Linked DNA regions of Homo sapiens: region 1 is linked to region 2. The links come from fine-mapping of genetic effects on gene expression. A gene starts in region 2. The other region holds a variant in brackets. All regions are shown on one strand. Distances are between the middles of the regions.

Region 1 (15,347 bases), 910 kb after region 2:
TCTTACTCTGTCACCCAGGCTGGAGTGCAGTGGTGCAATCATGGCTCACTGCAGCCTCAACCTCCCAGGCTCAAGCAATCCTTCCACCTTAGCCTCCCAAGAAGCTAGGACCACAGGCATGTGCCACCATGCCTGGCTAATCTTGGAAAATCTTTTGTAGAGATAGGGCCTCTATGTTTTCCAGGCTGGTCTTGAATTCCTGGGCTCAAGCACTCCTCCTGCCTAGCCTCCCAAAGTGCTAAGATAACTGGTGTGAGCCACTGCGCCCAGCTCTTATTTCTTTATAGACATTGTCTCATTGAGGTCTTAAAACAACTCTTTGAGGCAGGTCCTATTGAGTCTCATTTTGCAGACAAGGGAACTGAGACTTAGAAGTTTAAGGGACCTGTGGAAGGCAGCCTCTGAGAGGGCCCTGGCATCCCACCGCCTTGTATTCATGCTCTCATATAGTCCCCCTCCAGTCCAGGGTGGACTCTCTCCTACTGAGCAGAACAGGGCAGAGGTAGTGGGATGCTGCTCCTGAGATTGTTACTCAAAGACTGTGGCCTCCATCCTGGGTGCTTTCCCACTCTCTTGGGTCACTTGCTTCAGGAGAAGCCCTCTGCCGTGTTGCTAGGCAGTCTCATGGCGATACCCTCACGAGTGAGCTTGGACCCCGTTCCTCTCTTAGTTGAGCCTTAAGGTGGCTGCAGCCTTGGCCTGCATCTTGACTGTTACCTCATGAGAGACCCTGAGCCAGAACCACCCAGCTAAGCTGCTCTCAGGTCCCTGCCTGACCCACAGAAACTGGGAGATGGTAAGTGGTTGCTTTAAGCAGGCAAACGCTGGGGTAATTTGTTACATAGTAGTAGACAGCTAACACACTTGTCTGTCCTCACAAGGCCTGTCTCTGATCCTGCTGGAATTTGAAGCCAGTTATGTCTGACCTCAGCATCCATGATTTTTTTAAAAAATTGCAACTTTTATTATAGATTAAAGGGTACACGTGCAGTTTCGTCACTTGGGTAAACTGCATGATGCTGAGGCTTGGGATCTCAACGATCTCATCACCCAGGCAGTAAGCATAGTACCCAACAGGTGGTTCTTCAGCCCACATCCGCCTCCTCCCTCCCCTCTCTAGTGATCCCCAATGCTATTGCTTCCATCTTTTTCATGTGTATTCGATGTGTAGTTCTCACTTATAAGTGAGAACATGCAGTATTGGTTTTCTATTCTTGCATTAGGTCATTTAGGATAATGGCTTCCAGCTCTATCTATGTTGCTGCAAAGGACATGATTTCATTCATTTTTATGGCTGCATGGTATTCCATGGTGCATATGTACCACATTGTCATTGTCAATTTACAGTTGATGAGCACTTAGCTTGATTCCATGCCTTTGCTATTATGAATGGCGCTACAGTGAGCATACAGGGGAATGTGTCTTTTTGATAGAATGAACTTTTTTCCCTTGGGTGTATACCCAGTAGTAGGGCTGATGGGTCGAATGGTGGTTCTATTTTAAGTTCTTTGAGAACTCCAAACTAGAGTCCATGATTATTATTTTTTTTTTTTGAGATGGAGTTTTGCTCTTGTTGCCTGGGCTGGAGTGACCTTAGCTCACTGCAACCTGTGCCTCCTGGATAAAAGTGATTCTCCTGCCTCAACCTCTGGAGTAGCTGGGACTACAGGTGTGCACCACCACGCCCAGCTAATTTTTTGTGTTTGTAGTAGAGACAGCATTTCACCATGTTGGCCAGGCTGGTCTCGAACTCCTGACCTCAAATGATCCACCCGGCTTGGCCTCCCAAAGTACTGGGATTACAGGCGTGAGCCACTGTGCCCGGCCGCATCCGTGCTCTTAACCACTCCCCTATACTGCTTCCCCTGCACAGAAGAAACATAGTCAATGCTGCTTGGACTGAATTGAGACTACCCTGAACTGATAAGAAAGCTGAGGGATGCCTAACCCCAGTAGATTCTTAACCATTCTGGGCCGCAGTTTTCTCATATGAAAGATGAAAATGATAATAATACCTAATTTCATAGGGTTATTGTGAGGAGTAAACAAGTATACAATCATGAAGAAGAAGGTCTTCGAGCAATAACAGCCATTATTAGTATTAGATGAAATGACGTATGCAAACTTTTTTTTTTTTTTTTTTTTGAGGTGGAGTGTCTTGCTCTGTCACCAGGCTGGAGTGCAGTGGCGCAATCTCGGCTCACCACAACCTCCGACTCTCTGGTTCAAGCGATTCTCCTTCCTCAGCCTCCCGAGTAGCTGGGATTACAGGCATGTGCCACCATGCCCGGCCAATTTTTGTATTTTTAGTAGAGATGGGGTTTCATCATGTTGGCCAGGATGGTCTCGATCTTCTGACCTCGTGATCTGCCTGGCTTGGCCTCCCAAAGTGCTGGGATTACAGGCGTGAGCCACCTTGCCCAACCTAATGTATGCAAACATTAAGTGAAATAATACTTGGCTCAAGCTCCTCTGACAATCAGTGTTCACCTTTGCAAAATGGAGATACCAATGTTGTCATTCCTTGCTGTCAGGATTAGATGGACTGGCCCAGTGCCTGGCAAATACTAGAGGCTTAATAAATGGGCCAGGTGCAGTGACTCACACCTGTAATCCCAGCAGTTTGGGAGGCTGAGGTAAGTGGATCACCTGAGGTCAGGAGTTTGAGACCAGCCTGGCCAACATGGTGAAAACCCATCTCTACTAAAAAAAATAAATAAATACAAAAATTAGCCAGGCATGGTGGCAGGCATCTGTAATCCCAGCTACTCAGAAGGCTGAGGCAGGAGAATTGCTTGAATCTGGAGGCTGGAGGTTGCAGTGAACTGAGATCACGCCACTGCATTCAGCCTGGGTGACACAGCGAGACACCATCTCAAAAAATAAATAAATTAATTAATTAATTAAAAAATGGCATCCACAACATGATACGTCAACAGATTTTTTTTTAATTTTTTAATTTTTATTTTTAGAGATGTTGTCCTGCTTTGTTACCCAGGCTGGCCTCTAAATCCCAGCCTCAAGCAATCCTCCCACCTCAGCCTCCCAAAGTGCTGGGATTACAGACGTGAGCCACTGCACCCAACCCATTGACTGATGTTTGAAGGGCGGCACGTGGCAGATGAGTGATCTGTAATAGCTGTTACAGGGCACTGCTATGGATCCTGCTCATCGGAGACATCCCATTTCCCTGCCCTGGAGTCTGGGAGCTGGCTGAAGGTGGAGGGCAGGGTGAGGGTGTGGCATGAAGAGCTTGTGAATCGAGGGACATCTAAGAGGCTTGGCCCTTCCTCTTGGTCCTTGGGAATGTTCTCCTTCAGAGGCCCACAGCAGACCCACTGTGCTGGCTGCTGGCAGGACCCTCGACTCTCCAGTGAAGGGATTATGTTAACAGTCCCAAGAAGGAAATTGATTCCATGAAAATCCCCAATCCCTGGGGCTGGGAAACTTAATGAGTCTCAGCACAAACGAGTCCCCGCCAGTTCTCGTTCCAGTTGGATCTTTCTTGCAATGGCATGGTTTGTGCTTCAAATGTGCTCCAAAAGAAATAAATGAGTAAATAACACAAAAAAGATGGGCCTTACTCTGCAGCCCTATGTGGAAATGTTTGGGAAATTGTGATGACCATCTTTATTCAAAGATTTGGATATTTGTGAAACATGCTTGTATAACTTCTTTTGCCAACTTCTTGTTGAGTTTTTTTGGCATATTGAAGTATGAAATATCACAAAAGGGAAAACAAAAACACGTAGCCCCCAAATGACACTGGAACATACTTATTCAAAAAGTTCATCTGCAGAGCACCCCAAACTTTATCATTTTCACTGAGGTGGATGTGGGCTGTGAACTTAAGGATGGCAAAGGTGAGTTGTAATCTGGCTGGGACAGATCACTTCCCTTCTTGAATTTTCTCATCCACTAAGTATCAGGCTTGGACCTGATCAGTGGTTTTCACACTGGGTTCCTTGAAGCTCCTGGGGGTGCCCTGAAAGGGCTCCCAACCTGTTACATCCATCAGAACTGTTTCCCTTTCATCAGCCTCACATTTTAGAGATGAGATTCTCTAACTGGGAAAAGGGATTTTCCTGCTTAGGAAACAAAGGCTCGAAAGTTTCTTAGATCATCTGTAAGCTCCCGTGAAGTTCTGATACTGTGAGTCTGCGTTCAAAAGAGGGAAAAGGGATTGAAAATGGGATGCAAAGTATAAAGTCAAACTCAGAAAAGAACTTCCTAACAGCAAACAGCATAAGTCTCTGTCACAAGCAACGTGGAAGGAAAGCTGAGGAGTTTTCGTTTGCAGGGCTCTTTGAGGAGAACAGCAGAAGAGTCTGGACGCAGTGAGGAAATTGCCCGTGGCTGGAGGATTCCATGCTCCTGTGAAATTCCTAAGTGGGCCGAGCAATTCCTAAAAGGGGAAAGGCCTTGCAAGCCACAAGGCAAAGTCTACTTTTCACATTTCTTTCCTTCCACCTGGACTTACTCCTCCCATATTTCCAACTCGAGTTGTGCCCTTGACAAATGTTTGCTGAGTGCCTACTACGTGCCTAACGCGATGCGCGTGCTCGGGAGACAGCGCTGAACAAGTCAAGAATCGCTGCCTTCTCGGAGCTTCCCTTCTGAGAGGAAATGAGGCAGAACCGGAACTACTAGCCACAGTCACTTAGGGATGCCTGTGCCAGGACTCAGAGGGAAAAACATAGAGCAACAGAACATTTCCAGGGGAGTCGGACACAGAGGGCTCCTGGGATAGGCTTCCCGGAGAGGTGATGTTTGAGAGAAAACCGGAAAGACAGGTGAGAATTAACCAGGGAGAGAGGGAAGGATCCCTGCAGCGAGTGAGGAGCCCTCTCCAATGAAGGAAGTTATCGGGGCGCCCCAGAGATGGCTTCTCTGATGCACACACATGCTGACCATGCCTTGTGGGTTTAGCTCGTTTACAAGTTCCAGATCAATGAGTTCACTCCCTTGGTTGTCTCACTATCTGGATTAGCTCCCTCCACCTCCTCTAAACCTGCTGCAGACCTGCCTGGCTTTTCTCTGTGGCTCCCTGCCTCCTCCTGTCTTCTTATTTTGGCTGGAACCCGAGGAGTCCATTTTCACATGGTTGTCACTGCAGGGACCAGGGACAGGATACAAAGAACCAGAGAGGGTAAGGAAGGCAGGGGTGAAAAACAAGTGGGTTTCACAGATGAGCAAGCCGCTGGCCCGAGTGGGGGCAGGATGGACCCCATGGGAGTGAACTTGGACACTTGGAGGGGCTTTGAACTTTGGAGCTTCTCCCACCTTTGGAGCCCAGGACCCCTTCCCCAGCCAAGGGAATGACTCCATCCGAGGCTTTTAGAGGCGCCTCTACAGAGCGGGCATGTTCATTGGATATTAGCAGGGTTGCTGTGCTGTGAGACAGCCAGCACGGCAAGTGCTCAGTACAACATAGTTCCTTTTTTTTTTTTTTTTTTTTTTTTTTTTTTGAGATGGAGTCTTGCTCTGTCACCCAGGCTGGAGTGCAGTGGCGTGATGTCGGTTCACTGCAGCCTCCGCCTCCCGGGTTCCAGCGATTCTCCTGCCTTAGCCTCCCAGGTAGCTGGGATTATGGGTATGCACCACCATGCCCGGCTAATTTTTTGTATTTTTAGTAGAGACAGGGTTTCACCATGTTGGCCAGGCTGGTCTCAAACTCCTGACCTTAGGTGATCCGCCCGCCTCAGCCTCCCAAAGTGTTAGGATTACAGACGTGAGCCACAATGCCCAGCCCAACATAGTTCTTAACAACAGCCACAGTAGCGGCTCTGGCTGAGGAACTGATCCCATTGTGGAGACTGAACCAGGATCCCACCTACCTTGCCCAGCTGTGAAAGCAGAGGCGGGCAGTAGGACTTCTATTTTTGGCTGTTTTGTTTTTGTGTTTGTTTTTTGGGTAGTGAAGATTTAGGAAACAGAGATCAGCAGCATAATTAAAAGAAGCTAATAACAAAATCAATCTGCCGTGTAATTATATATGTAGCCGCTTTTTGCTGCATGGTAATTAGTCATAAATAATAAACAGCCGATAAAAACAAAGGTAGCTGATTTGCCTTTCACACAGCCAGGCCATGGTCACAGCCTTCCTCTTTTTGTCTTCTTAGTGCCCCTAGACTGGCCATGGATCAGGGCTGAGAGTTTACCTGATGCCAGGGAGCATTCAAGCACACTCAATGCTGACACTCATCTGTCGTGCCTCAGTTGCCCCTATGCCCCAGGCCATTCCTTTCATCCTCTCATCAACCTCAGAAACTGCCCACATCCCCCCACCGTGGGGGTGTCCTTTGGCTCCATTCAGCTGCCCCTTTGTGTCTGCTCTGACCTCAGGCTGCCTTCCTCCTCCAATGATCAAGCACTCTGTGTGCTCCTCCCCGATGTGCCAGGCTTTGCAGCAGGTGCTGGAGGGACAAAGGTGAAGGATACCAGTTAGATTATCAGGAGAAAACTGTGAAACATTTGGGTGTATGATGATGAAATATTCTTGCTCTGTGATGTCTCTATACACGTACATATTATTGCTCGTGACCAAGATATTTTTGTAGGACTCAAAAAGGGTTATTTTAAAAGAGAGAGAGAGAGAGAGAGATGAATAAGATCCAGTTCTTGATCGAAAGGAGCCAATAGGCTGGGAGAGGAAACAGCCTCTATACAGCTCATCCCGACGCCCATGCTAGAGGGGCGTCTACAAAGGCCGCGGAAGCAGATGTGCAGGCAGCGCTTTCACTTGGGTGAGAAGAAAGGGGTTGGGAGACAGCTCAGAGCAAGTTTCATTGAGTTGCATCTTGAAGGGTGAGGAGGAGTTTGGCAGGTGGCAGAGGAATTGTAATAATAGCTCACATTTATTGAGCACTTATGAGGCACCAGGTGCTGTTCTAAGAACCGTATGTGTGCTGACCTATGTAACCTTTGAAATCACGCGGTAAGGCAGATGTTATTGTCTTCATTTTTAGAGGAGGAAACAGGGTGTAGTGAGTTGAGTTTTGTTCCCACCAAAAAGATGTGTCTAGGTCCTGACCCCTGGTCCCTGTGACTGTGACTTTATTTGGAAATAAGGCCTGCAAATATAATTAAGGATGGAGATCTCATTTTCAGATATTAAGATCTTATCATGAGATTACATACTCATTTCTTGATGAGATAATTTTGATTTAGGGTAGGCCCTAAATGCAATGACTGGCGTTCCCATGAGAGAGAAGAAAGGAGAGGGGGGATTTAAGGCACAGAGACACAGGGGTGAATGCCATGTGAAGGGAGGGGCAGACACTGGAGTGAAGCTGCTGGAAGCAAAGGAAACCTGGAGTCTCCAGAGGCTGGAAGTGGCAAGCAAGGGTTCCCCCTAAAGCCTTCAGGGGTAGCATGGCCCTGCCTGTAGCTTAGTTTCAGAAGCCGTAGAACAAGCTCTCCTCTGGAGAATCATTGTCTTGAATCACTGTGAATGA[T/C]CACCATCTCTTTTTCTCCCTCCCCACAACAGAGGTCTTTCAGTTCCATATCAACGAAGGGTAAGGCTACCCCCTTTCCCCAGGGTAAAAATCAATGACCCAGTGAACCAGGTCCCAGACTTGCTTTAATGCACTACAAACAAGAACCCTATGAGCTGATGATCCTTTCCCTGAACAGCAGGCTGTTCCCACTAGTGTGTGCCTGGGCCACCAGCAACAGTTTGACTTCAAGAGTCACTCAGTAGGGGCAGTCCTAGGGCTAAGGGAGCCCCCTAAGTGGAGAGACAGGAAAAGGCTGGGCTCCTGCTTTGGGGAGGAGTCTCAGGGCTTTAGGCCAGCAGCAAGCTTGGCTGCCTGTCCTGTCGGGAAGAATAGAGACTCCCTTGCAGGCTGGTCCACACCTCCAGTGCCACTGGACTATTCAGATGGACGGTGCTGGAGCAGGCAGAGCTTTCAGGTGGACAGTGCTGGGGCAGGCAGGGCTTTCAGGTGGACAGTGCTGGGGCAGGCAGGGCTTTCAGGTGGACAGTGCTGGGGCAGGCAGGGCTTTCAGGTGGACAGTGCTGGGGCAGGCAGGGCTTTCAGGTGGACAGTGCTGGGGCAGGCAGGGCTTTCAGGTGGACAGTGCTGGGGCAGGCAGGGCTTTCAGGTGGACAGTGCTGGGGCAGGCAGGGCTTTCAGGTGGACAGTGCTGGGGCAGGCAGGGCTTTCAGGTGGACAGTGCTGGGGCAGGCAGGGCTTTCAGGTGGACAGTGCTGGGGCAGGCAGGGCTTTCAGGTGGACAGTGCTGGGGCAGGCAGGGCTTTCAGGTGGACAGTGCTGGGGCAGGCAGGGCTTTCAGGTGGACAGTGCTGGGGCAGGCAGGGCTTTCAGGTGGACAGTGCTGGGGCAGGCCAGGGGGCGGGACTTGGGCAAAGGGCACGTTTCTGCGTCTCCACCATGTTTTTGTGTTTTCGCTTCTTTGTCCTGATTCTCAAGAGACGGCTGGGGACTGGCTGTTTTTTTCTAGGGAGGTCAAGTCTTGCGGTAGCAGGAAGGAGACTTGGTGCTCTCATGGGAGGTGAGAGCAGCAGCCAGGACCTGGAGAACCTGAGGATGAGGGCGGGCAAGGTTTGGAAGCCTGTGGAAAAGAATCATATCATGTTTCCTGGGCCCCTGAGCGCCTGGGCTTGGGAACTAATGGACCACAGGGACACGCAGGTGCAGGTCTAGAAGCCCGTGAGTGTGCTGAGCAGCTCCACCAACCTCTCAGTGGGAATTACCCCCACGGAGGGCCAGCTGCCCAGCTCAGGGCCTTTGTAGGGCTGAGGAGGACTGGACTCCTGTCAGGGCAGAATGCAAGCGGATTTCCTCCCTTCTTTGCTTAGATTCTCCATCTACTGGTCCCTGCCTGGCATGCCTTCCCCTCCCAGGGTAGCTATTACATTTCTGCCAGGGTCTAAGCAAGAAAACAACACGGCTCCATTGTGTCAGGTTCTGAGAATTCTTTTTGTGAGCGTCAGGTTGGTGTCAGTGTCCCTAGGAGGGGCTGAAGGAGCCCGCCAGTCCCAAGGGAAAGGGACCCAGCCTGCAGGTGCAGAAGGAGCTGTATCAGGCCCTCAAGGCTAGCACTGAGCAAGACGGCAAAAATGAGGAATAGAGATGCGGGGATTTTATCATTTTGTGGGCACTTGAATGGGTTGCTTTATGTTTGTGACAACAAAGGGAAGAGGATTTCATTGTTGAGCACTTACTTTCTCTGTGTGATCAAAAGATTGACTTCAAAACGAGAGTTCTATCTCCAGGTATTTGCCTATTGCGGGTGTTGTTTGGGCTCTGCCATGACGCGGTGCTCATGGGTAACCAGCTTGGGGGCCAGGCTGGGCTGCGGCAGCTGAAGTGATTCAAGATGGCGAGAGAGGGGCTGAATGCTCAGCACGGGGCACCGTGGTCTGGGAGCTACAGTAAAAGCGGTATAATTAGCACAGTCATGAAAGGTGTAAGTTCTGGAACTCCACAGCCTCCCTTTATAGCCAGGCTCTACCACTCACCTGCTGGGTGATTTTGCGCCAGTTATTTAACCTTTCCTCAACGATTCCTGTTTCTTCCTCTGTAAAATGGGAGTCTAACAGTGTTGAAATTGTAGAATTATTGGGATAATTTCAGGAGTTAACGCATATGAAAAATATAAACAGTGCTTGGCACAGTACATGCTGAGCAGTATCAGCAGTATTCCCTGTGGTCCTGGGCAGGGGCAGACACCTGGCTTTGGGGATTTTGGGGAAGGAGGGGGAAGCATGTCCTGAGATCCTGGGTGACTCCTGGGTGGAGCCCAGCCTGGGCCTGACTAGTGTCTAGCAGCCCGATGAGGCTTGTCACTTAGGGGAGTTCCTGTCCTCAAGTGTCAGAGGCATTGGCACCTCTGGGCCCCACTGGGGGTAGCCTGTGCACACGTGCTATGTCCTGGGACCACAGAATGGGGAAGTGGCTGAGGTTTCTGCAGGGCCAGGAGAGGAGGCCACAGTCTCTGCTCTCCACTGAAACAAACTCAGCTGTCTTTGACCACTTCATGAGCTAGGGAACGGGGCAACCTTGCAAACGAGGTATCATTTTCTCTCTATTTTTTACGTGAAAGAGGCTCAGGAAAGTGGTGAAGACAAAAAGTGGAGCAGGAATCGAACTCACGCCCAACTCCAAAGCATCACAAGGCTCTGTCTCCAAGGAACCAGGCAAGGAAGGGCTGGGAGATTGGTATTGGGCAAAAATAGAACCACATAAGTCAATGATACAGGGTACTCAAGAGGGGTGCGAGAAGAAGGGAGATAACTCAGAAGACTGAAGAGTGAAGAGTGAGAAACCGAGGGAGGAAAAGGAGAAATGAGGCCCTATGGTACTAGGGGTGTCTCTGCTCTATCTCTGCTGGAATGGAAGGTCCCAGGTATGTGGAGTTCTAAATCCAGAAATCTCCAAGGCCCAGGCAGGGAACTCAAATGAATGCACAGGCCTGGTGAGGTGACCTGGAGAACCCACTTGTAGAAAGGGGACAGCCTCCACTCAGTCCCCGCGGGTGTGCCGAGGCGTGCAGGAACCAGGCCCAGGCTTGCCGGAGTGCCACATCTTCTTTCAAGAGAAGCAGGAAATTCATTTTTTAAAATGTGAACTCTCATAATTTTAAAACGCTGGTAACCAAAACAATTTAAAATATCATTTTAAGAAAAACAAAAACAAAAACGAAAAGCCTACTGGCTGCCAGGATACAACCTCTGCTTTATGCCACTTGTTTACATGAGGGGCTCATGGTCAGATTGCAAGTCAATCCAGGGCTTCTCAAGACCCCAGGAGGAGCAGAGTGTGTGTGTGTCAGGGCGGTGAGAATTGAGGACTCTGAGGAAGAAAGCATCCAGATTTCCAGAGAGAAGGAAACAGAGTAAGACCAATGCATTGCTACCAGAAAATGCAAAAGGGACATTTGCCTTTGACCACTGAGGTGCCTTCCACCAGCCCTTCCCTGTCACAGTGGGGCAGGGCCTTCAGCTCCACTGGAGGATATGAGGATACCCGTGCAGAGAGGGCTGAGGGAGGCAGGGAGGAGGGATGCTTGGGGGCGGTGGAAGCCGCTCAGCTGGGCTGCTGAGAAGTGAATCACATTTCCATGTGATAGGTGCAGTTCACACTTTGTAAGGGAGCAGGGAGCCTGACTTTTCTAAATATACCAGGCAAGCCAAACAGCCACCTGGCTTGGGATTGACATTCCTGACAGGAGGCTGGGCAAGCCCTTGGACTCCGTATCTGTAGGCTGCGCCTCAGGATGCTGCTCTGACTAGGGGAGAGTGGCTGAGGCAGGAACTGGGCCTTCTGGAAGGTGCCCACAGATATCAGTTCTTGGGTAAATACATGTAGGAAACTTGGGAAAACCCTCACAGACCCAGATTAAGCTGTGCAACCACAAGCTTCCAGAGGGGTTACTGGAAACTCCTGGTGGACCTCCCTCTTTCTGTTGCCCTCGGTCCTCCCCGGGCTGCCTGAAACAGCGGCCCCCTGGTTGTGTCCTCCAAGCTTATTCGCGGCAGTATTCACGACATCCTTCTCAGGGCCTGGGAGGGTCCCCCCTAAATCCACAATCTCCCGGAAAATCCCCACCTGAGATCACAATGTGGGCAGCCCTGACTCTGCCTGCCTTGGCAGCAAGCTCAGGTCCCTGGAGGAGTAGGAAGTTACCTACTTGGCTTACCCTGAAATGCCCTGCACACCATCCTGCAGGCTGTAGGGTGGGGTGGGGGGATGAGGAGCGGCTCCTATCCCTCTGTTGCCCAGGCTGGAGTACAGTGGCGCAATCTCAGCTCACTGCAAGCTCTGCCTCCCGGGTTCAAGCCATTCTTCTGCCTCAGCCTCCCAAGTAGCTGGGACTACATGCATCTGCCACCATGCCCGGCTAATTTTTGTATTTTTAGTAGAGATGGGGTTTCACCATGTTAGCCAGGATGGTCTTGATCTCCTAACCTTGTGATCCACCCACCTCGACCTCCCAAAGTGCTGGGATTACAGGCGTGAGCCACCGTGCCCAGCCAAGTGGCCCCTATCCCTCTTGGCATCAGTTTCCAACTCTGTACAAGTGGAGACTGGAGGTGACAACGCCATTCTGAGGCCCCTTCCACGCCTGAGATGGCATAGTTCCCTCAGGTACGATGTGCGCTGGGGGCTTGTGGTGCTGTAGCGGGTAGGGGCAGTCTTCCGTGGAGCGGGTGGGGCTGCTCCTCGGCTTACTTTGGGCATGAGGTAAAGCAGCCCCAGCTGTGGGCAGGCAATGTCAGTGTGTGCTGCCGGGCCCAGGAGGGCTTTCAGGGAAAGCTGGGGCTTGATGAGCTGCCCTAATGCTGGGAAGAAGAGGCAGCAATGACCCAAAGAAACATAGGCAATGTAGGCTTTAGGCTGTGGGCAGAGGTGCCCCTGGCATGGCCCACCCAGCCCAGCCCTGGGGAGGGGGCTTGGTCCCAGGATGCTGCAGATAAGGACCTGGAGGCCTGTGAGAATCTTGTGAGCAGACTCCGAGCTGCCAGCAGCTCTGCTAATGACCGGGACCCGAGGGTGATGCTGGGTCCCAGGAAAGTCAGGAAAGTTTGGAGCTCAGATGCCCAGTGCTCTGACTACAGCAGCCATGGAATGGTGCTGCAGCCTGGGCTCCAGGAGGTGGGGTCCTCCCAGCACCTCGACGTCTTATCACATTCACCGTGCTTGTCAGGAGCCCCAAGGGCTCAGAGAGGCCTCCAGTCTCTAAGGAGCTTCTGCAACCTTTGAGAGGCTGCCTTGGTGGGCAACTCACATGATATTCTGCCACAAATGAGGCTTGACCCTGGTGGAGGGAAACAGTTGTGGGCTTTGGGGTCAGTGAGATCTGGTTCAAATCCTGAATCACTCCTCAGAGAGACTTCATCTGACCACACTTTCTAACACATTGCCTTTCTAGGTTTCTTCACAGTCCGTTAAACTACCTGATTTAATCATCTGTTTATGAGCTTCCTGACATCTCCCAAACCCCAGTGAAAGGCTGGGCCCTGAGAATACAGTGGGAAGCAAGCCTGATGAAGTTCTTACCCTTGGGGAGCTTTCCGTCCTTGGTGGGCAAACAGGTAAGAGGCGGCAACGAGGACTGTGATGGGGAAGCATGCTCATTGTCACAGAGCAACGAGGACTGTGATGGGGAAACATGCTCATTGTCACAGAGCAAGTTAGCAAATTATTTAAAGTGTTTTTTTTTTTTTTTTTTGAGACGGAGTCTTGCTCTGTCGCCCAGGCTGGAGTGCAGTGGCGTGATCTCAGCTCACTGCAAGCTCCGCCTCCCAGGTTCCAGGTTCACGCCATTCTCCTGCCTCAGCCTCCCGAGTAGCTGGGACTACAGGCACCCGTCACCACACCCAGCTAATTTTTTGTATTTTTTTAGTAGAGATGGGGTTTCGCCATGTTAGCCAGGATGGTCTCGATCTCCTGACCTTGTGATCCGCCCACCTTGGCCTCCCAAAGTGCTGGGATTACAGGCGTGAGCCACCGAGCCTGGCCTAAAGTGTTTTTAAGAAAATTATTATGTTTTCGTAGAGTCATGGTCTCACTATGTTGCCCAGGCTGGTCTTGAACTCCTGAGCTTAAGTGATCCTCCTACCTCAGCCTCCCAAAGTGCTGGGATTACAGGTGTGAGTCACTGCACCTGGCAAATTATTAAACATGTTGCTGGACACACACTTATGCTGAAAAATTCTTCATTGTTGTCTGAAATTCAAATTTAGCTGGGCTTATTTGTTTTGACAACCCTGGCACTGTGGGAGCATCTAGGAGGAGCACCATAGCCAGTTCTGGGACCTGGGGCAGGTATTTCCTGGAGAAGGGGGCCCCAGTCACACCTGAAGGATGGAAATGAATTAGCAAGGTGGAGGGGGAATGAGTCTTCCAAGTGGAGGGAATGTGGTGTACAAAAGCCAGGATGTGACAGCCAAGCGCCCTGAGAGCCTGATAGGCTTTCTCAGGATGGGGAGTGGAGGGGCTAGGGACACAGGCAGGCAGGCACAGGTCGATGAAGGTCTTAGCTCATGTTTGGGAGTCTGGACTTTACCCCAAGAACAACACACTTACTGAAGGCTTTTAAGTGGAGAAAACATGATCTCACATTTCGTTTTGTTCATTTGGGTTTTTTTAAATTTTGAGATGGAGTCTCGCTGTGACGCCCAGACTGGAGTGCGATGGCGCAATCTCTGCTCACTGCAACCTCTGCTTCCCGGGTTCAAGCAATTCTCCTGCCTCAGCCTCCTGAGTAGCTGGGACTATGGGCATGTGCCACCATGTCTGGCTAATTTTTGTATTTTTAGTAGAAATGGGGTTTTACCACATTGGCCAGGCTGGTCTCAAACTCCTGACCTCAAGTGATGCGCTCGCGTTGGCCTCCCAAAGTGCTGGGATTACAGGCGTGAGCCATCACGCTTGGCTACATCTTGCATTTTTAAAAGTTGATTCTGGCTGCTGTATGGAGAATGAATTCGGGAGACCAGAAGTGGAAGGTGAGAGGCTGGTTAGGAGGCTTCAGCTGCCATCCAGCTGAGAGATGATGGTGGCGTGGACAAGAAAGGAGGCAGTGGAAGAGGGAAGTTGATAGATTGGATAGATTCAGTCCATCCTCAGCAGACAGAATCAACAGGATTTAGCTACTGATTCAAAATGAAGGGGGCTCGGGGCCAATCAGGGAGCAGAAGAGGAAAAGTGACTCCCAAGTTCTTGACTTGAGCAACTGGACGATGGGATGCCATTCAGCGAGGTGGGGGAGACAGGAGGAGGGCAGGAGGAGGAAGAGGAAGAAAAGATTGGTGGCAGAGGAAGAGGAGGGTGCTTCATTTTGGATAGGTTGAGCCTTTGGTGCTCATGGCATACCTCAGTGGCGATGGCCAGGAGAAGTCTGAAATGATGCAGGCTTAGACAGAGGCCTGAGCCACCAGCATGGAGATGCAGCTGGAAGCCACGGGAGCCTTGCTGCTCCTCTCCAGCGCCTGCTTCAGAAACCTGCAAGGCTGGCTGGGCAGGGACAGGGCTGAACCAGAGTCTCTGGACAGGAAGCACTGGGGCCTAAGCTGAACCCTTTCCCTAGTGCTCCATCCAGTGGGGCAGCTCCCCCTGGTCCTTGCGGATGCCTGACAGGTAGGAGTGTGGACTCCTGCAGCCTCACCTTCTGATTTTTCTTAGATGGTTACATGATGTCTCTCAGTTTTAAAGTGTTTATAACTGGTTCCACTTTAATACAATGTGGGCAGAACAGAATACATCTGTGGGCCAGATATGCTCTGGGGACCACTGGTCAGGGGTCTGGGGTTCGAAGTGAGAGGAGATGCTGAACAAAACCCTCAGGATCAGGCACCTTTAAGGCAATGTTCCCCC
Region 2 (15,347 bases):
ATGGTGTAGGCCTTGAGAGAATATGCCTGCTGGTCGGTGCCACACCAACTCTGAAGCATGTGCGGGGGTCCCCACAAGGGTCTGCAGTCACGCACCTGAGCACTTGTAGGGGAGACATTCTTCTGTATTCCCCTTTCTCCACTGAGGAAAGATCTGAGCAAAGACTTTCTGAAACAAGAGTGAGAGCGAGGTAATCCTACCTGATTTTTCATTGTAAGCTGCTGCTCCGGCCACCTGTGAAAAATGAGAATGGCTTTCTTAAAAAATGGAAGTGGAATGACTACAGCTTACTGATAACCAATACACCCTAGTAAACACAATGCAATGGAAATCCTGCTCAAAGCACTGTGTTTGGGAGGGCAGGAAGCATGTGTTTTTTTAAATCTGCATGCCCGAAACACTTAAAATACTAAATGTGCCAGCAAACATTGGCCCTATGTCATTTCCCTAGGGGCCGATGCATTTCTTTTTTTAAATTTAATTTTATTGTTTTTCGAGACAAGGTTTCACTCTGTCACCCAGGCTGGAGTGCAGTGGTGCAATCACAGTTCACTGCAGCCTTGAACTCCTGGGCTGAAGCAATCCTCCCATCTCAGTCTCCTGAATAGCTGGGACTACAGGCATGCACCACCATGCCCAGCTAATTGTTTTTACTTTTTTAGAGATGAGCGGAGTCTTGCTATGTTGACCAGGCTGGTCTCGAACTACTGATTTCAAGTGATCCTCCTGGCTTCAGCCTCTGTAGTAACTGGGATTATAGGCGCCAGCCACCGCCAATGCATCTCAGTGCATCTCATTCTAATTCAGAATGAGATGAGGTTTAGAGATCAACACTTTAAAAGGCCCAAAAGTCACAGACCAAAATGACCCCAAACTCTCAGATAGACTCCAATCTCCAAAAGCTCATGGGGTTTCTCTAGACAGAAGACCTGGGGACATGAGCCTCATCAGCTCTGTCTCTCATCCACCAGCAAGGATCCACTTTTAATTGCCTTTGTCATGGTACAAACCTTAATGTGGAATTTTCAAGTTTAGTAAGTGACTTCTAATCTGATCTTTCTCTATTCCCTTCTTTTCATTCATCCTCTATTACTCTCCTTACCCCAACCCGAAAAAGCAGAATCACTAAATGAGCTGAGAATTAAAATGATTCTGAAAAATCATCCAGCTTCAAGTTGACACTATTTATTAGATTAGCATATTCTTGATTCCCCATTTCTCAAGAAGGGAGAAAGGAGAAAACTTTATTGAGCTATTAAAAGCAGATGAGGATGTCAACTGTTGGTGAACACCCCAGATTTCTTGCTGTTATATAAAGAAGTATTCATGTGCTGATCAAGGTTCATGACGTATACACATTTATGCTTTTTACCATGGAAAAGTCCATCCTCCAGGTCCCCGGGGGAGTCTTTAAATGTTTATTCCCTTTTGCGCTTCAAAGCATAGACTGTAGTTTCCAGATATGGTGGCCCACTTCTAGGAATGAATTAGAAAAGATGCAATAAACATTAGCCAGAATCTTAGGAAATTCGGTAAGAATATACTGTAGGAGGACTGAACATGATTTCTGATCTTGATGAGTTCTTAATTTCCTTGATAACGATGTACACATTGTTTTGCTGTTGTTGTTACTGTTTGCCTTCTACCCTTTCCAAGAGAGGTTCCAGTGGAAATCATAATGGCAGTTCAGAGAAGGGAAAATGCTCTACGACCTGGAACAGGAAAAGCTATATGGAGGAGTTGAGACTAGAGCCTGGTCATGAAGGATGCAGGAGGTTTTTACATATTTAGAAGAAGAGGGTGATAACAAAGTGGTGAGACTGAGAACAGCATTCAAAGAACAGTAAAGAAGACCGAGCTTATGAGTGAGTGAAGCCCCCTGGAGAGCGTTTGAAGAAAGAGGAAATGCCACTAGAGCCTGTGAGGGGGGTGTATTATTGAATTTGTGATAAACATCCTTGACCTAATGATAGGGGTATATCTGGTTAAAAGTCAGAAAATCTGGGAAAAATACTTTGTTATGATTTTCCATCTAATAGGTAGGAATTAAAGATTATGAATTTTTAGAAGACTGATGATGAAAATGCTTAAAGATACAGTTGCCCACACTTGTTGCTATATTTAGGCCTCGAAATGATTTCTTTGTTTGTTTTTTTGTTTGTTTTTTTGTTTTTTGAGTTGGAGTCTCACTCTGTCCCCCAGGAATGCAGTGGCTCGATCTTGGCTCACTGCAAGCTCCGCCTCCTGGGTTCACGCCATTCTCCTGCCTCAGCCTCCTGAGTAGCTGGGACTACAGGCGCCCGCCACCACGCCCAGCTAATTTTTTGTATTTTTAGTAGAGATGAGGCTTCACCGTGTTAGCCAGCACGGTCTCAATCTCCTGACCTCGTGATCTACCCGTCTCGGCCTCCCAAAGTGCTGGGATTACAGGCGTGAGCGACCGCGCCTGGTCGAAATGATTTCTAATGTCTTTGCAATAGAAACATTTTGTACAACCATCTACAGCATCAGAGCACTATTCTTACTCATCAAGGGAAAGCAGCAGGTCTAGTACAATCCTTTGCATTCTAAAATGCAAAGACAAGATGCATTTTTTGCCTCCAGAGGGCACTGCTGTTTTCAAAAAAGAAGGATGACTTCATCTGCTTTGGCCATGGGCTTTTGCTTTAAATGTTGCACCTGTTTCTGTCTTCAGGCCAAGTTTTACAGGCCTATGGATAGCCAAACAAGGAGCATAGTGCCCTAAGCATTCCATTTCTTCCATTTTAAAAACAGAAAAGCCTTCCCAACTTTCCATCACTGGTTCCTACTGTGTTTCCTTCTCTTCATAAGCAGCCAAACTTCTGGAATGAGTAGTGGACTCTCCTTCTGTCCACCTGCCCACTCAGCCTACTATAACCTGGCTCCCTGCCTCATTCCCAGCACCCTTTTGAAACTGCCAGTGGCCAGGCATGGCGGCTCACACCTGTAACCACAGCACTTTGGGAGGCAGAGGCAGGCAGATTGCTTGAGCTCAGGAGTTCGAGACCAACCTGGGCAACATGGCAAGACCTCATCTCTACTAAAAATACAAAAAGTTAGCTGGCCATGTTGGTGCATGCCTATAGTCCCAGCTACTTGGGAGGCTGAGATGGGAGGATCACTTGGTGGGAAGTTCAGGCTGTAGTGAGCTGTGATTGTGCCACTGCACTCCAGCCTGGGCAAGAGGAATGAGACCCTGTCTCAAAAAAAAGAAGAGAAACTGCTCATCAGAATCCCTCATGTGGTTAATGCCAATGGATTATCTTCTATCCATCTTTACTGGACCACTTTCTATAGTATTTCACTCTTTGATTCCTGAAATTCTGCTTTCCTGGCTTCTCCTATGCCATCTTCCCTTGGTTCTTCTATTACCCTTCACTTTGCCTTTACAGGCCTTTTCCCTGCGTTCACTTCCACCATCTCCCTCTTAATTGTTTGCCCCAGGATTCTGTCTAAGGCGTTTTTCATCTCATTCTGCATACTCCCCAGGAGTGATCTCATCCATTTCCATGGCTTCAACTCACCAATTGCAAATATGACTCTTATATCTGCAGTTCTAGGCCATGGCTCTCCTGAGCCCCATTTTTCAACTCCACCTGGAGGTCTCACAGTCCCCTCAAATTAGCCTCTGCAAAAGTAGACCTCTTATCTCCTGGTCCCCAATCCTCCATCCCACCCCCACCAAATCCATACTTTATCTCCTGGATTCTACAGCTCAGTAAATGATAATACCATTTACGTACTCAAATCAGAAATCTAGGAACTTTCCCTGAGTCTTTTTTGTCTCATATCTGGGACCTGACAAACTAAATCACTTTCAAATATGCCCCTTCCTTCCTCGCCCACTGACACTGCCTCACTTCAGAGTCTCAGCAACTTTTGCCTGAGCTGTGGCAATATACTCTTTTCTTTTCTTTTCTTTTCTTTTCTTTTCTTTTCTTTTCTTTTCTTTTTGAGACGGAGTCTTACTCTGTCGCCCAGGCTGTGGCGCGATCTTGGCTCATTGGAAGCTCCGCCTCCCGGGTTCACGCCATTCTGCTGCCTCAGCCTCCCTAGTAGCTGGGACTACAGGCGCCCACCACCACGCCTGGCTAATTTTTTTTTTTTTTGTATTTTTTTTAGTAGAGACGGGGTTTCACCATGTTAGCCAGGATGGTCTCGATCTCCTGACCTCATGATCCGCCTGCCTTGGCCTCCCAAAGTGCTGGGATTACAGGCGTGAGCCACCGCGCCCAGCCATCAATATACTCTTTTCAAAGATTTAAATGTACCTAGTTTGACATTTTATTGTTTGAATAGGTATTACATTTACATGGTTCAAATTTAGAAAATGTAAAAGGTTTCCTCCTGTCTCCGCTGCTAAATTCCCTGTCCAGAGTCAATCAGCGCTTCTCCTGTATTCTTCCAGTGGCATTTTTTACACGAAAGGTAGTAGCTTATACACACACTTCTGCATCTTATTTTTCCCACATAATGTATCCTAGAGATCTTTTCATGTTAGCACATAGAGAGCTTTTTCATTTTTCCTACTGCCCATTGTATTCCATTGTATAGATATACTATTATTATTAAACTGCTAGTCCCCCTATTTATGGGCATTAAAGAGTTCCCTATCTTTTGCTATTGTAAACAAGGCTGTAAAGAACATCTTTGTACACAGGTCACTTCACACAGGGGCTAATATATCAATGGGACAAATTCCTAGAAATGGAACTCCAGAACCAAAAAGTATATGCAGTTGTAATTCTGACAGTATTGCCAAATTGTTCACAGTAAAGACGGGCCCATTTCCAGTCTTACCAGCCATGTGCAAAAACCTTATCTCAGGCCTCTCTGCCGCCACTCATCCCTGCTTGTAAATGTGTCCTCCACACGGTTGTCAGCACCATATTTCTAAAATGCAAATCTGGCAAGTCATTTTCTTGCTTTCCCTGCTTAAAGCCCTTCAGGTCATCTTCACTGCTCTTCAAGGCTTTTCACCATCTAAATATGTCCTGTCCAGGGTGGACTATCAGCCTCACATAGCTACTGAGGCTACATGTGGCCAGTCTGAATCGAGATGTGATGTAAGTATAAGAAAAACACTGGGTTGCAAAGACGTGGTATGATAAAAAGAATGTAAAAATCTCATTACATGCTGAAATGATTAAGTTTTGGATATGTCAAGCTAAATAACATCATTACAGTTAATTTCATCTGTTTCTTTATCCTTTAAAAATTTCCTAAAAATCATTAAAATTAATTTCATCTGTTTCTTTATCCTTTAAAAAATATGGCTGCAAAAATTTTAGAATGAACCTACTGGCTCCCATTGTATTTCTGCTGGACAGTGCCCATCTAGGTAGGCTCTCCCTCCTTCATCCCCTCACCCATCTCCTCTCCTCCCAGGCCCCAGGCCCACTCTGTGCTTCAGACCACAGTGGTCCCTAAGCCTCAGGTGCTTTTCCCCCCAATCCTGTCCTCCCCATCTCGCCGCCACACTCAATTTATTAAGATTCTGCTTGAAACTTCCCCTTGGAGGCCTTGGAGAAGTTTTGCTCCTTGGTTCACAGGTCCGCCTCCCCTCACCAGCCCTTGACATCAGGGCCTTGCTCTGCTCTTTGGGCAGCAAGAAACAATTCAGTGCTGTTGGTTAAATCAAGCAATGGAGGAGAAAAGCCCGCAGAAGCCCGTCTAAAGGGTAGAGTTGGAGGGAGGGAAGGGGTAACAGGTCACAATTACCAGATGAACACATTCAAATTTTCAAAAATGGGTAAGTTTAACATGGATTCAGAATGTGAATTACTTTTTAGGATCAAATAATAGTGGTAACAGCAGTAAGAGTTACAAAGAATAAGAAACACAGGAGAAACTTACTTTCTTTGCATAGTCTACTCACAAGGGAGGCCTGGCCCTGGGACCCGGGTCCGCGCCCGTCCCCCTTCTCCCCGCCCACCTCGAGCCTGCAGGAGAGGGGACCCCGAGGGCCCAGAGGCACCGGACCTACTCACCCGGCAGGCCGCTCTCCTCGGTGCAGACAGCACAGGGAGGAGGGGGAAGCGGCTCTGCCGGGAACAGGGAGGGACCTCCAGGGAAGCGAAACTGAAACTTTGCGCCCAGTCCGCAGGGCGGGCCGCGCCTTTACCGCCCAGCTGCCTCCCGGAGCCCCCGCGCCCTCCCGACGCGCAGAGCCATGGCCTCCCACCTGCGCCCGCCGTCCCCGCTCCTCGTGCGGGTGTACAAGTCCGGCCCCCGAGTACGAAGGAAGCTGGAGAGCTACTTCCAGAGCTCTAAGTCCTCGGGCGGCGGGGAGTGCACGGTCAGCACCCAGGAACACGAAGCCCCGGGCACCTTCCGGGTGGAGTTCAGTGAAAGGGCAGGTGAGCTTCGGGCGGCCAGGCTGCGAAAGCCCTCTGGGGGCCCGGCCCCCGGGTTTCCAGGCGGACCCAGTTCCAGCTGACCTAGGGGAGAGGGCGGGAGAAAGTATGTCACTGTGCGGTGGCGGACAGGGACGGGGCCCTACTGCCAAGAGACTCACTGAGACAGTGAACACTCGGTGGAGGATGGGGCCTCACATGTGCCTGGTGCGGGTCTGGCTGACGGCGCCTTAGTGTGGATGCTTTCCATATCCTCATTCTAACTTAATTTCTCAGCTGTCATCTTCCTTCCCCCAGATGCCTGCCAGCTGCTGTCCTTGTCATTCAGGGATTCCACTTTTATGTTTTAAATAATGGTTCCATTGTTCCATCCATGAACAAAAGGATGTTCCATTTTGTGTTTTTGAGGATTACAAAAGTGATATATGCTCACTATAGAAATAAAAGAGTAAAAAAGAAAACAACCTGAAGATAAACAATGTGACCATTTGGTGTATTTCCTTCCTGCCTTTTTTTATGAATGCCAGCAAACACATGTATATTTACAAAATTCGGAGTCTGCACTTTTGATTCCTGCTGTTGTCACTTACCTGTATAATGAGTATTGAAATGGGAGACTGGGCCGGGTGCGGTGGCTCACGCCTGTAATCCTAGCACTTTGGAGGCCGAGGTTGGTGGATCACCTGAGGCCAGGAGTTCGAGACCAGCCTGGCCAACATGGGGAAATTCCGTCTCTACTAATAATACAAAAATTACCCGGGCATGGTGGTGCGCACCTGTAATCCAAGCTACTCTGGAGGCTGAGGCAGGAGAATCGCTGGAACTCGGGAGGCAGAGAGGTTGCAGTGAGACGAGGTCCTACCATTGCACTCCAGCCTGGGTGACAGAGTGAGACTCCGTCTAAAAAAAAAAAAAAAAAAAAAAAGAAGGAAGGAAGGGAGGGAGGGAGGGAAAGAAGGAAGAAGGAAAGGGGAGACTGGAGACAGTTTTAGAAACATGATGTTTAATCGGTGGACAATGTTCCATTGTCATTAAGCTTTCACTTCTATAGTAAAACTTAATCCGCACACTTTAGAGCTCTTAATAGCTCCCCGACTTTCTCCATCGCCAACCCACCATTCCAGGATGCAGGGAGCAGCCTTACTGGGAGGTGCTGGGGCAGAGTACAGACACAGGAATGAGAGGATTACTTGAAATCTCTCCCATTTTTATGTGTGTATATGTGTGTGTTTAATGTCTCCACTGAAGCTAAGGAGAGAGTGTTGAAAAAAGGAGAGCACCAAATACTTGTTGACGAAAAACCTGTGCCCATTTTCCTGGTACCCACTGAAAATTCAATAAAGAAGAACACGAGACCTCAAATTTCTTCACTGACACAATCACAAGCAGAAACACCGTCTGGTGATATGCATCAACATGAAGGACATATTCCTAATGCTGTGGATTCCTGTCTCCAAAAGGTGAGTATTGAAAGAAGGAGCTGGCTGTGCCTGCGCCTCCTCTCCAGTCACCAGCCTCATGTATTATTGATCCAACACCCATGTGCTGGGCACGTACATGGGAGCCAGGCACTGTTTTAGGCACTGGACACAGAGATGAATATAACAGACAAGGCCCCTGCTCTCAGGCAGCTTATACTGGGGGCCAGGTCATGCACAGAAAGACAGTAGGCAAGTAAACAAAATAAATAAAACCATTTTATTTATTTGGAGAGAAACAGCGCCAGGGCAAGCAAGGGGAAGATGGGGGTGGTGTTACTTCTTTTTTTCCCCCCAAGACAGAGTCTCACTTTATCGCCCAGGCTGGAGTACAGTGGCACAATCATGGCTCACTGCAGAGTTGACCTCCTGGGCTCAAGGGATCCTCTCACCTCAGTCTCCTGAGTAGCTAGGACTATAGGCGCCACTACACCCAGCCAATTTTTTTTTTTTTTGTAGAAACAGAGTCTCACTATGTTGCCCAGGCTGTTCTCAAATTCCTGGGCTCAAGCGATCTGCCCGCCTTGGCCTCCCAAAGTGCTGGGATTACAGTCATGAATTACTGCACCTGGCCTGGTGCTACTTCTAACCAGAAATCAGAGACAACTTGACTGAGGAGGTGATGTTTGGCCTGAAACTTGAATGATGACAAGATTCATTCAACAATAGATATCCACTGCCTACTGTGTTCCAGGCACTGTTATAGGAGCTGGGGAGGCAGCCAGGAACATGGCAGACTCGGCTTCCAGGGACGGCACCTTCTAGAGAGAGAAACAGACAATATTAGTAAACAATAGATATATAATAAAATGTCTGCCAGTCATACCTGCTAGGAAGAAGAATAAGTGACAGACAGTGACAGAACCACCATTTAAAATAGGATGTCTGGAAAAACCTCAAGTGAGGTGACATCTCTAGCCAAGTGGATTTCTGGGCGGAAAGTGTCCTAGAGGGAAGCATAGGTGCAAAGTCCCCAAGAGCTGACATTTTGAGGCCCAGAAGCTTTAAGGAAGCCAGTGTGGTGGGGAGGGCAGTGAGCAATGGAGAGAGGTGCTAGGAACTCGGGAAGGTACCCAGAAGACAGGCCTTTGGGGCTGAAGGTAAGGATTTTGGATTTTTAACTTAAAATGTTAGGGGATTCATCAGATAGTTTTGAGCCAGGGGAGAGGGCGATCTGGTTTATATTTCTAAAGGGTCACTCTGGCTGCTGTTGGAAAACTGAACGTAGAAAGGGGATAGAATGGAGAGTTAGAGCCTGGTTAGGAGGGGTTGCAGTGCGCCAGGTGAAAGATGATAATGGCATGCACTTTGGTGGCCTTGATGGAGGTGTGAGAAATGGCTGGATTCAGGAAACATTTTGAAGATCTAGAGGAAGGATCTTAACATGCAAAGTCCTTGAGAAGGAACAAAACATTAGGAATTTTGCTTTTATATTACAGTCAATTGGTCTCTGTCCTTTTTATCTTAACCTGGCGTGTCTTATATTTGAGCTTCTAAAGGCCAGGGTTTAGAAGGGTCCACAACTTTGCATGCAGTCGAGTGTTTAGTTGAAACAAGAATAAAGGAGGAAGAGTGAAGAAGAGAAAAAATAGTAATAGGAAAAGCCATTGCCCTCAGTTTTATGGCTCCCTTCCAAGTTCACAAACTTTTGTGAGGGCCACAACAACTTGCCCAGAGAGCACAGGTGCCTTCCCTTGACTGCTGTTCCCAAGATCAAACAGCTAGTGGCAGTTGTAGAACACGGATCTCTTGGCCATGGAGCTTTTAGAAATGCTCATGCCCAGGCTCCACTGCAGATTAGTTAACATCAGAATCTCTGGGGATGTGCTTGGGCTTTGGCTGGTTTGTTTTTCCCTGAATTCGCCAGGTGAGTCTTATATGCAGACAGGGCTGAGAACCTCTGGGATGTAGCGTGCTGTATCCTCTAAAAAGGATTTGAGACCAGGCACGGTGGCACATGTCTGTAATCCCAGCACTTTGGGAGGCTGAGGTGGGTGGATCACCTGAGGTCAGGAGTTCCAGGCTAGCCTGACCAACATGGAGAAACCTCGTCTCTACTAAAGATACAAAATTAGCCGGGCGTGGTGGCACATGCCTATAATCCCAGCTACTCAGGAGGCTGAGGCAGGAGAATTGCTTGAACCCGGGAGGCGGAGGTTGCAGTGAGCTGAGATCGCGCCATTGCACTCCAGCCTGGGTAACAAGAGTGAAACTCCATCTTGAAATAAATAAATAAATAAATAAATAAATAAATAAATAAATAGGATTTGAAAGAAGTTGCCCCCACTTGGGAAAGATGTAGTGGTTGTTTCTCTAGTCTCTATGCATTCTCCTGAAGAGAAGATGGTAGGCCTGCATGCTGAGAGGTTTTATTTGTTCCTGTTCCTTTTAAAATTTCAGATCTTTCTTACTGTAACAGCTGACCTGAACTGTAACCTGTTCTCCAAAGAGCAGAGGGCATACATAACCACACTGTGCCCTAGTATCAGAAAAATGGAAGGTCACGATGGAATTGAGAAGGTGTGTGGTGACTTCCAAGACATTGAAAGAATACATCAATTTTTGAGTGAGCAGTTCCTGGAAAGTGAGCAGAAACAACAATTTTCCCCTTCAATGACAGAGAGGAAGCCACTCAGTCAGCAGGAGAGGGACAGCTGCATTTCTCCTTCTGAACCAGAAACCAAGGCAGAACAAAAAAGCAACTATTTTGAAGTTCCCTTGCCTTACTTTGAATACTTTAAATATATCTGTCCTGATAAAATCAACTCAATAGAGAAAAGATTTGGTGTAAACATTGAAATCCAGGAGAGTTCTCCAAATATGGTCTGTTTAGATTTCACCTCAAGTCGATCAGGTGACCTGGAAGCAGCTCGTGAGTCTTTTGCTAGTGAATTTCAGAAGAACACAGAACCTCTGAAGCAAGAATGTGTCTCTTTAGCAGACAGTAAGCAGGCAAATAAATTCAAACAGGAATTGAATCACCAGTTTACAAAGCTCCTTATAAAGGAGAAAGGAGGCGAATTAACTCTCCTTGGGACCCAAGATGACATTTCAGCTGCCAAACAAAAAATCTCTGAAGCTTTTGTCAAGATACCTGTGAAACTATTTGCTGCCAATTACATGATGAATGTAATTGAGGTTGATAGTGCCCACTATAAACTTTTAGAAACTGAATTACTACAGGAGATATCAGAGATCGAAAAAAGGTATGACATTTGCAGCAAGGTTTCTGAGAAAGGTCAGAAAACCTGCATTCTGTTTGAATCCAAGGACAGGCAGGTAGATCTATCTGTGCATGCTTATGCAAGTTTCATCGATGCCTTTCAACATGCCTCATGTCAGTTGATGAGAGAAGTTCTTTTACTGAAGTCTTTGGGCAAGGAGAGAAAGCACTTACATCAGACCAAGTTTGCTGATGACTTTAGAAAAAGACATCCAAATGTACACTTTGTGCTAAATCAAGAGTCAATGACTTTGACTGGTTTGCCAAATCACCTTGCAAAGGCGAAGCAGTATGTTCTAAAAGGAGGAGGAATGTCTTCATTGGCTGGAAAGAAATTGAAAGAGGGTCATGAAACACCGATGGACATTGATAGCGATGATTCCAAAGCAGCTTCTCCGCCACTCAAGGGCTCTGTGAGTTCTGAGGCCTCAGAACTGGACAAGAAGGAAAAGGGCATCTGTGTCATCTGTATGGACACCATTAGTAACAAAAAAGTGCTACCAAAGTGCAAGCATGAATTCTGCGCCCCTTGTATCAACAAAGCCATGTCATATAAGCCAATCTGTCCCACATGCCAGACTTCCTATGGTATTCAGAAAGGAAATCAGCCAGAGGGAAGCATGGTTTTCACTGTTTCAAGAGACTCACTTCCAGGTTATGAGTCCTTTGGCACCATTGTGATTACTTATTCTATGAAAGCAGGCATACAAACAGTAAGTATTTCTCAAGTCCATGGGTTTCTTGCCACTATGCTACGATTACCAGGGCAAAAGAGACTGTCCTGTTGCCTATTAGACAATAGATTTCCCAAGGAATTATCTCCAGGGTCATGTGCAAGGGACTGAAATAGTGGTAAAGGTCACAATGTTTGCTGGTAATTCAAATACCTTTTGTGTCTATTTCTTAAGACAGAGAAAGGGTGGGTGGAGATTATATCTTGAGATGGGGGTATCAGGAAGGTGGACAGTGTTTCCAGCATGAATTCAAGGAAAGAGGAGAAATATGAGTTATTGGGAATATGAGCATAACTTCAATACCTTTCTTGCTTTTGATTTGCTTTATCTACAAATGAACACATCTATACCTATAGTAAAAATTAGACAGGGCACTCTTTTCACATGACATTTTCTTGTTCTCACACAGGAAGAACACCCAAACCCAGGAAAGAGATACCCTGGAATACAGCGAACTGCATACTTGCCTGATAATAAGGAAGGAAGGAAGGTTTTGAAACTGCTTTATAGGGCCTTTGACCAAAAGCTGATTTTTACAGTGGGGTACTCTCGCGTATTAGGAGTCTCAGATGTCATCACTTGGAATGATATTCACCACAAAACATCCCGGTTTGGAGGACCAGAAATGTGAGATCCTTTTGGGATGTAATGGCTGCTCAACAGAGTATAGGGATTATGAAATACGGCAATTTCTGGATGTGGATATAAGTAGACTCTATAGCAGTGGAATTGGTGTTTTGAGAGCTGCTGATCGGGGATGGTAATCTCAAAGACAGAAAGATTGGTCCCCATCAACTTCTACCCTGCCAGCTATAAAGTACTATGGAGTTATTTAAATTTTGCACCAAAGGACAGGGGGCTTTTGAATCCGAGATGAATACTATATAAGCTGATTTAATTTGAGGCGTTGTGTCTATCTGAAGGCTAGATGCTCGGAATGTCACTTTGCTTCCTTTTAAGGTCACCTTTCTTTTTCACCCCTTCCCCCACCAGTCCACAGAGAACCTGAAATCACTTGGCCAATAATATTCTAGAAAAAGTCTAAGTTGTGAGGAGACTATTGGTAGAAACTGTATTATACGAAATCCAATTGTTCTTTATGAAACCCAAATAGGATTCCTCAGACCCTTGGCACTAAAGAAAAAATATATACCCTGAGACTTTTCCAAAACCTTAAATTTGAAAATCCTACTAGCATGTGATTACGATGCCCCCCTAAAACACAGTATATTATTATATTTTTAGGAGAGTCACTACTTACCATAAACTGAAAAATTTTAAGAATTAACATAGACATGAAGCCTCAAAGTAAATCAACGTATTACTATTCATCTTGGATTCTCAAACCCCCTGCCCTTTGATGCGAAATGTAATAAATACATCATATTAATACTTTGTAGTTGGCAGGGTAGAAGCCAGCTTGAAAGGCAGATGCTGGCCAGACAGCTAGGCTCACTCGCTAGCGAAATGACTCGCATCTGCGAATTTAAAAGTCATGATACGTCATCCACCTTCAGGATTACTTGTGAATGTTTGCAACACTGGATATTAATTAAATCCTTAAATGCTGGATATCTATTGCACATATCCGAACAATTTGTGGTGACACTAAAGGAATTTTTGTTTCTTCAGGTATGGCTATCCTGATCCTTCTTACCTGAAACGTGTCAAAGAGGAGCTGAAAGCCAAAGGAATTGAGTAAGACAACTGCTGGAAGATGTCTTAAATCAAGCTTTCAAAAAAATATATTTTAGGAGGCTGATTTAATGCCAGTCTAAATCCTTATGTAGAAAGGACTTTGAAATTTTTCTTCTCAAGAAATGGTTTGTATAAGAATAACAATCTGCTAGTCTGTCATTTCTGGAGTGATACTTTTTTTTTTGAGACGGAGTCTGCTCTGTCGCTCGCGCTGGAGTGCAGTGGCATGATCTCGGCTCACTGCAAGCTCCGCCTCCCAGGTTCATGCCATTCTCCTACCTCAGCCTCCCGAGTAGCTGGGACTACAGGCGCCCACCACCATGCCCGGCTAATTTTTGTTTTTGTATTTTTAGTAGAGACAGGGTTTCACTGTGTTAGCCAGGATGGTCTCGATCTCCTGACCTCGTGATCCGCCCGCCTCAGCCTTCCAAAGTGTTGGGATTATAGGCGTGAGCCACCGCGCCCAGCCCTGGAGTGATACTTTTTATGGAAGACAAAAGCCCCCCAAATCTGTGTAAAATCTGCTGCAAAGGTGTCATCCCTCTTGTGTCATCACTGGGGTTAGAGGTGGGTCCGAAATAATCTTCTGTGTCCTTCAGTTGGACTCTCGGCTGCCAATTGATCTCTTTTTCATTGCCATCTCTGGGGTGGTTCTTTGGTTTTTTGTGTGTTTTCCCCTTCATCTCTACCTGTGAAAGTGAAATTCTATTGTAAATGGGAGGAAAAAGGGTTGGTTGTGAAAAATTAAAGACCCACATTCTGCTTTCTTACTCATGGTAAGAAAAGTGGCCATGAGTAGAGATTGGGCAAGCATTGGTAATAAATGGAATAAGACTATTATTATTATTATTTGAGATGGAGTCTCACTCTGTCACCCAGGCTGGAATGCAGTGGTGTGATCTTGGCTCACTGCAACCTCCACTTCCCGGGTTCAAGCGATTCTCCTGCCTCAGCCTCCTGAGTAGCTGGGATTACAGGTGTGTGCCTCCACACCCGGCTAATTTTTTGTATTTTTAGTAGAGACGGGGTTTTGCCATGTTGGCCAGGCTGGTTTCAAACTCCTGAGCTCAAATGATCCTCCTGCCTTGGCCTCCCAAAGTGCTGGAATTACAGGCATGAGCCACCACACCCACACAAGACTATCATTTTTAATGACCAAGAGCCTAGTATATAGTTGGTGCCTGTCTTAGTCTGTTTGTGTTGCTATAAAAGAACACCTGAGACTGGGTAATTGATAAAGAAAAAGGTTTGTTTGGCTCACAATTTTGCTGGCTAGAAGGTTGGGCATCCGGTGAAAGCCTCAGGCTGCTTCCATTCATAGCAAAGGGCAGCCAGTGTGTGCAGAAATCAAATGACAGAGAGGAAGTGAGAGAGAGAGGTGTCGGGGAGGTGCCAGGCTCTTTTTAACAAGCAGTTCTTCAGGAACTAAGAGTGAGTCACTCCCATGAGAACAGCACCAAGCCATTCATGGGGGAATCTGCCCCCATGACCCAGACCCCTCCCGTTAGGCTTCACCTCCAACACTGAGGATCAAATTTCAACATGAGATTTGGAGGAGGTCAAACAAACTAAACTGTAGCAGTGTTTCATAAAATTGTTTGCCTGACTCAGGTTGCTAGTAAGCCAGCAGAGGGATATTTGCCTCCTAAATCTTTGGCAGAGGCAGGAGTAAGGAAGCCATTTCTGGAGTCCTTGCTACTAATTTGGAAAACTGAGCTTCTTTCTTTCATTGCTTTTTCCCTTAAGAGACAAGTCCTTACTATATTGCCCTGTCTCTCAAGGGAAGACATCAAGACTGGACTTGAACTCCTGGGCTCAAGCCATCCCCCAACCTTGG

Evidence for each region.
Region 1: its variant is fine-mapped to the expression of DTX3L in fibroblasts (GTEx, PIP above 0.99).

The regions. Positions count from the first base shown.
Region 1 is chr3:123,470,773-123,486,119 of GRCh38, forward strand. No RefSeq gene overlaps it. Among named protein-coding and RNA genes, the nearest start is that of ADCY5, 29 kb to the left of the region's middle. RefSeq lists a silencer at 9,745-9,844. The variant T/C (reference allele first, on the strand shown) is at 7,458.
Region 2 is chr3:122,558,234-122,573,580 of GRCh38, forward strand. DTX3L (deltex E3 ubiquitin ligase 3L) reads left to right here and starts at 6,105. Exons shown (of 5, transcript NM_138287.3): 1 at 6,105-6,380; 2 at 7,626-7,837; 3 at 10,256-11,791; 4 at 12,222-12,439; 5 at 13,445-15,347. The coding sequence starts at 6,194. The coding sequence ends at 13,514. It overlaps PARP9 (poly(ADP-ribose) polymerase family member 9), which reads right to left and starts at 6,067. Exons shown (of 11, transcript NM_001146105.2): 1 at 6,012-6,067; 2 at 1,373-1,476; 3 at 201-234. The coding sequence starts at 1,387. LOC105374071 (a long non-coding RNA gene) reads left to right here. Exons shown (of 5, transcript XR_001740869.2): 5 at 1,657-1,737. RefSeq lists a silencer at 5,853-5,952 and an enhancer at 5,993-6,112.